Linked DNA regions of Homo sapiens. The protein of the gene in region 2 interacts with the protein of the main gene of each other region in a biochemical or structural test. Each region holds a gene or a part of one and is shown on either strand. Other genes may lie near its edges.

What was found.
Region 1: the proteins of SGIP1 (region 2) and DAB2 form a complex in vitro, tested with the Homo sapiens proteins (one study listed by BioGRID).

The regions. Positions count from the first base shown.
Region 1 is NC_000005.10:39,383,353-39,387,158, reverse strand, and holds part of DAB2 (disabled homolog 2), read left to right. Parts: intron 1-3,806. UniProt on the Homo sapiens protein: Adapter protein that functions as a clathrin-associated sorting protein (CLASP) required for clathrin-mediated endocytosis of selected cargo proteins.
Region 2 is NC_000001.11:66,733,150-66,736,955, reverse strand, and holds part of SGIP1 (SH3-containing GRB2-like protein 3-interacting protein 1), read right to left. Parts: intron 3,209-3,806; coding exon 3,076-3,208; intron 1-3,075.

The DNA.
Region 1 (3,806 bases), on a different chromosome or scaffold from region 2:
GCATAAAACTTTCAGGTCAAATGAGATGGAGAGGAGCAGGGACTTCATGCATTCTTCTCTGACCCTAACCATATGAGTATCACAATGCATGGTAGCATTCTAAAATGCCTTTAAGAGAGAAGCCTGTTTAATATTCATTTTAGCAGTGAGCCCTAACTCACTTGCCTATAGAACCTTTCATTCTTCATAATTTTTGTTATAGTTCTGAGGATAAACTTTTTAAAGTACTAGACTAGATTATCCTGACAGGTCCATCCTAACTCTGAGGTCCTTTTGATTTGTAGTCAACTTTGTGCTCTCCTCCATTAGTGATGTTTTCTCAAATAAATCAGTATCTGAACACTTACTTCCCAAGTATAAATGACATTCAAACAAGTAATATTCAAAGAGAGCAAAGCACTCAAGATATGAAGTGGAATTCCACTGGAATAGGCAAGGAAGTACTGCCTATATAATCTACTTCTGTAGACTTCTAGAATGTTCTAAAAAAGGAAATGGAAAACAACATGGATAATCTTCAGTCTCATTTTTATTAGACTTTATGAAGTCTAAGAATTTTTTATTTATAGGAATTCAAGTTTTAGTTAAACTAACAATAAAGTAATAAATACCATCAAAATATATACTCTCTGATAACCAAAAGAAGGCTAACAGATCTAATTATGTGCTGGTTAGGCTTTGACATGTTCTTATCTATTGACTCTATAGTCATAGGTCAAAAATAGATTTATCTCTACTTGGTAAAGCCAGCATGTTTAAAAATATTCAACTCTTTCAACAATTGCTCTGAAATATGTAAAGAGAGAAAGAAATCTAAATTACCTAGACTTTATTATTGGTCCTAGATGGTTGTCACTCCCCTCAAATTTATACAGAAAAGTTTTATGAGTTTCAAATAATGCTCATGTTGCAAACTATGTGGTATCCCCTAGAACAGAATTTTTATTGGCAAGCCCCTTGAGCATTATCCTTCCACACTGCATCTCAAAAAAGGAAAAGAAAGAAAAACATAAAAACCCATGTTCTGCAACTTTAACAACCACTTGAAAGCACAGTTACTATGGAAAGAATATAAGACATGATCTGTGATCAAGGAGATTAAATCTGGTACAAGGGATGGGATCAGGATACAAAGCAGGAGTGTCACTTATGTCCTTGTGTACATGCCATAAGATAACACGGGTGGGCACAGGGCAAGTGCAGACAGAAAAATCGATGCTAAAAGCTTTGTAAAGAATCTGAATTTGAGTTGGGTCTTTGAAGTGTGTAGGAAAATAGATCATAGTTGGGCTAGAAACAACGTGGGTCTTATTGTGGATCATTTGGAAATTTGGCCTAAGGAGGTTTATTTTAATATAGGGAGCCAGCAGTAAGCCACTTAAGGCTTTGAGTAGAGAAGTCCTCAGTCTGACAAACTGGAATGGTTAGGTGAGATTAGCCACCCAGAGAAGAGCTAGGCTATGGAACTCAGGATTTATGTCCGATTACTGGAGCTCCCTACGAGCAGGTTCTGTAACGCACTGCCGTGTCTCCAGTGCGTGCGGCTCAGGTGCTCAAACAGTGGCCAACTGGAGGCAGTGTTGACAGTTCGACAAAGAATGAATGAGGCGCTGACCAAGTGGGTGGATGAGGAGTCTTTGGGCTCTCAGTTGTAGTCTGTGAACTACACTTTTAATCTTGGATTAATAACAAACCCAGCCTGAGGAGAGCCTTATACATTTTACTTATAGGGTGACTATTCAGAAGTCTAACATTGTGGCTCCTGTTTGGTGTCCTAAGAACTTCTTCTGAAGTATTTGAAAACGAGAACTCTACCAGCTGTGAACACTCAACTGTTCTAACCCAGAGGTGGCTCAAAACAAATAAATAAATATTGAAATCACAAGCTTTTGTAATACATTTTATCCTACCTTTTGATTGTATAAAGATCCCTAGATTAATAGCTCTTCCAATCCATTTCTCTGATTAAATTTTTTTTTAATTATAAGCTCTTTCTTGTGACAAATTCTTCTTTTATAAAGAGAAAGCCTGGCTTTGGCTTATAAAAACTGTATTTTTATGCCTCACAGTAAAGGAATCCAAAAGATAGATTACCATTTAGGTCTGATTTTGCTGTCTCTTTTGTGGCCATGAAATAGGACTTAAACTTTCTAAACAATTGGGTATTTTTTTTTCTTTTAAAAGCCAAGGAGTTCTATTTGAACCCTTTTGTATTTACTAGTTTGCAAATTTTATATTCCCTTGAAGTTGTTTATTTTCCCCAATGATCAAAATATTTAGTATTCTGCTCAGGGTAATGCAAGATAACTACTATAACTTGCACTTCAGCAAGGCATTTTTTATCATTTATATTCTTCTCTGGGTAGCATAGTTAAGTATTTAATGGATCAAAGTCAAGCAGAAGGAAGTGATGTCAGTATGAAAGTTCTGTTCTAGGATGAGTTATAATTCTGTCTTTTACTGGAATAAAGACATGTCGGATTCATCAAATTTACTGCTTTTAAGCTGAGAATTTTTTATCAAACAGTTGAAAATCCAAAAAATTAACACACCAGAGAAATGATAGAGAGGGGATAGAATTAGTAGAGCTACATATTTGATATGTCTTTCAAATTAACTCTTAAACCCATGTCTCTACCTTGTACAATAGTCCCCCTTTATCTGCAGTTTCACTTTCTGAAATTAAGTCTGTGGTCAACCTTGGTCTGAAAATAAGTGAGTACGGTACAATATAATATTTTGAGAGAAGAGAGACAGAGAGACCACATTCAAATAACTTTTATTACAGCATATTGTTATAATCATTCTATTTTATTACTTGTTAATCTCTTATTGTGCCTAATTGATAAATTAAACTTTATCATGTGTATGTATATGAGAAAAATACTGTATATAGGTTTTGGCACTATGTGCCATTTCAGACATCCACTGTGGGCCTTGGAACATATTCCCTGAGGATAAGGAGGGACTACTGTATATAAATTAAAGATCAGTTGTTGGTTGACTTTAACCACTAAATAGATGAGATTACTGTCACAACACAGGCAACTCTAAGCAATGTTATGAAAAGATGTACAAATAGGAGATCTTAATGTGTGATTGACTAAATTAGATCAGTATTGAGTGTCTCTTTCAGAGGACATAGACAAAAAGGGTAAGCCCAGAGGAGAGACTGGGATGATGAGGATGAGATCCTACTTGACTATCAGCTTCAGCAAGAGCCTTAAATATTAAGAGACATACCTGAAGGCCGTGATATAAAAGAAAAGCCTCTCTCCCACCTCTAGAGGAAAGAACTGGACCGATTTTAGGGAAATGCATTTGATCTTAAATTTCATCACAGCCAGAACTATAAAATATGAATGTATTAGTCGATGAATTTTCTCATTTAGAGAGATGATCCTACATGACTCTGGGGGTACAATAGAGAGGACTGTATGTGTATAGGTAGGAAGCTGAGCTAAGCTTCTGAAATCACTTACTTTCAAGCTCAACATACTTTGATAATCATTTATAGTGACTCACAATCAATTCCCTTTAAGACTTTCAAAGTCACAAATTGAAACAATGCTCATAATGAATTAAGCCAGTCTGTATGTGTGAACCAGGGTGAGCAGAGACATGAAGTAAGCAACAGTAAGATTTCACCTAATGAGGTTGAGACTTAAATAAAAGGGCATGATATTGGGGAGGAATAGAAAGGACCTAGTCTATAGCTAGGGAGTAATGGACTACGGGGGTTGATGGAAGGAGGTAATGATCAACCGATTTATCAAGACCAAATTCAAATGGAAATTCTGATAATC
Region 2 (3,806 bases):
GTTTGAAGAGTATATACTATTCTCACAAGAAAAAATTATATTCTTTTGCATTTCTGGAAAATACACCATTTTATAGATATTTCACTTTAAATGGTTTTCTTACAACAATTTAAATAAATGTTTTCCAAAGCAGAGGATGCATAGACTCCCTTGAGAAACTTATACAAAGTACAGATACCTGGGTGGCATTCTAAACCAATTAAATAAAATTTAAAAAGTATATTTAATATATATATCTGCTAGGTCCTAACACCCCCCAAAATACATATATGTATATTTAATAATGATCTCTACCTATATTTACATATAATACGCAATATATTATATTCACATATAATACGCAATATATTATATTCACATATAATACGCAATATATTATATTCACATATAATACGCAATATATTATATTCACATATAATACGCAATATATTATATTCACATATAATACGCAATATATTATATTCACATATAATACGCAATATATTATATTCACATATAATACGCAATATATTATATTCACATATAATACGCAATATATTATATTCACATATAATATATTCACATATATTATATATTATATTCACATATATCATATTATATTCACATATAATATATCGTATTATATTCACATATATCATATTTATATATTTGCATATTTTATATAATATTTTAAACTATTTGTATAAATATTTATATTTAAAATATTTGTATAAATATTTATATTTAAAATATTTGTATAAATATTTATATTTAAAATATTTGTATAAATATTTATATTTATGAATATAATGTGTTATTTTATATGTTATAGATTGTATAGGTTTTATATGTATCTAGGTTGTATATGTAAATATTATAAATAAATATTTATATTATTTAAATATGTATACACATATATTTCTTTTTAGCATCAATTCAGAACCAGCATTTGATTGAGAAATACAGTCAAGTTTGAGATGTCCTGATTTTTATTAAAGTACAACTTCCTTCATTTGAAGAAAAATAATCTGAACATATTTAATAAAAAATTATAATGCATTAAAAACGTGGTAAATGAAATGAGCCAGGCACAGAAAGACCAATACCACACGATCTCACTCTTTTTTTTTTTTTTTTTTTTTTTTTTTTTGAGACGGAGTCTCGCTCTGTCGCCCAGGCCGGACTGCGGACTGCAGTGGCGCAATCTCAGCTCACTGCAAGCTCCGCCTCCCGGGTTCACGCCATTCTCCCGCCTCAGCCTCCCGAGTAGCTGGGACTACAGGCGCCCGCCACCGCGCCCGGCTAATTTTTTGTATTTTTAGTAGAGACGGGGTTTCACCTTGTTAGCCAGGATGGTCTCGATCTCCTGACCTCATGATCCACCCGCCTCGGCCTCCCAAAGTGCTGGGATTACAGGCGTGAGCCACCGCGCCCGGCCCACACGATCTCACTCTTATGTGGAATATTTAAAAGTTGATCTTGGCTGGGCACAGTGGCACTTTGGGAGGCCAAGGAACGGGGATCATCTGAGGCTGGGAGTTCAAGACCAGCCTGGCCAACATGGTGAAACCCCGTCTCTATCGAAAATACAAAAATTAGCCAGGATGATGGTGCATGCCTGTAATCCCAGCTACTTGGGAGGCTGAGGCAGGAGGATCGCTTGAACCCAGGATGTGGATGTTGCTATTAGCCGAGATCGTGCCACTGCACTCCAGCTTGGGCAACAGAGGGAGACTTCATCTCAAAAAACTAAATAAAATAAAATAAAATAAAATAAAATAACATAAAAATAAAAGTTGATCTTATAGAATTAGAGAGTAGAATGGTGGTTACCAGAGGCTGAGGTAGTGGTGGTGGGGTGGGGTGGGGGTTTGTTTAGAGAGATGTTGGTCAAAAGACACAAAATTTCAGTTAGATGAGAGGAATAAATTCAAGAGATTGATTGCATAAGGTGGTGACTGTAGGTAATAACCATATACTGTATTCCTGAAAAATGCTAAAGTGAATGGAAAGTGTTCTCATCACAAAAATAACTATGTGAGGTAATACGTATGTTAGTTTAGTCATTCCATAACGTACATATATTCAAAATATCATGTTGTACCTAATACAGACATACAATTGTACCTGTCAATTTAAAAAATAAAAAAGTTTAAAAAAATCTAGGGAGTCAGCTGGTGTGGTGGCTCATGCCTGTAATCCCAGCACTTTAGGAGGCTGATGCGGGCGGATCACCTGAGGTCAGGAGTTCCAGACCAGCATAGCCAACAGGGTGAAATCCCGTCTCTATTAAAAATACAAAAAATTAGCAGGGCTTGGTGGTGCATGCCTGTATTCCTAGCTACTCAGGAGGCTGAGGCAGGAGAATCGCTTGAACACAGGAGGTGGACATTGCAGTGAGCCAAGATTGTGCCACTGCACTCCAGCCTGGGTGATAGGGTGAGACTCTGTCTCAAAAAAAAAAAAAAAAACCAAAAAAATCTAGGCAGTCAAGTGGCTGGGAACCAATGAGAGACTCAGGCACTATCAGGATCCTGGTATGAATTAGGCTTATTTAGTATATCAATAATAATTTGAGATAAGGGCAATTCTAGATACAAAAAGAAAGTTCTCATATATTGTAAGTATCAAACATTCCTTTATTATTGAACTATTTCTTAGTGTTAGATTTTATTAGAATTCTTTCATAGGACTATCTTACTAGAAAAACAAAAGCAGATTGTGTACCTTGAATCATTTAAAATAAGAGGTTTTAGTATAGTAATGTTCTTAACAAAATTATAATCATCTTGTTTATCAATATAAACTTATAATCTTAATTAGTATAATGTTTTGCAACTTCATTTTTTTGTGGCACATTTCTCTAATTTTGTGATAAAATATTTTACTTGTAAGCTTAAACTAATAAGAATATGTATGAATATTTTTGTCAGTAGTCCCCAAGTTATCTTTTAAAGTTTCCATTTAAAAAAATGAGTTATAGCTTTTAAATACTGTTAAAAGAAGTGTTACTTTAGTTACTTTTATTCAATAGTAGGTACTTTAGAAAACAAATATGTCATGTGGAAGAGATACCGATCATGTAAATAGGCTTACCTGATATTTGAGCATGTCAACGTTATAATATGTAGCCTGGGGTTTTTGTTCAGACACTTTCTTTAGGTGAGTCATCAAATTTGGCATGTTTACCCAGAATTCCTTGGTATTGGCATCATTTTGTGTATTATCACTGTTCATTTGGGAAGAAAAATGATTGAGTAGCATCTTAAAACAAATATAAACCCTACACGAAGCATCTTAGCAAATTGTCGTCTGATATGTACAGCCATTTTTTGACAATTTGTAGAGATTATTATGAATCTATTAACAGTAGTGTGGTTTTCATACAAATACAGTTCTGAATGCTATGGTGTTGGTAGATTAATATCCACGAGGAGGAGCTACTGTGTTGCTATCAATCTCAGTGAGTGCTCAGTAATATTAACTAATTGCGATGATAATTGGGAGCTTTAAAGAGTGAATTATTTATTAACTCAAACTTAATATCCCTTTCTATGAAACCAGCTTTGTCTAAATTAGTCAGTTAAGGCAATTAAGGAACTGAATACGTTTATTTACTTTTGAATTACTTTGACCAGTAGTTTCTCAGAAATTATCCAGTGAAATATTTGGCCAAATGTAAACATGGTCTTTATCACCAACTAAGCAGAAAAGAGTGATACTAAAATTACCATGCTGCCTTTTCAGCATTCATAATATTTCATCCATGAGCATTTAAATCATCAAAGATTTCACTTCACTTATAAGATGATCCTGGAGTTTAAATG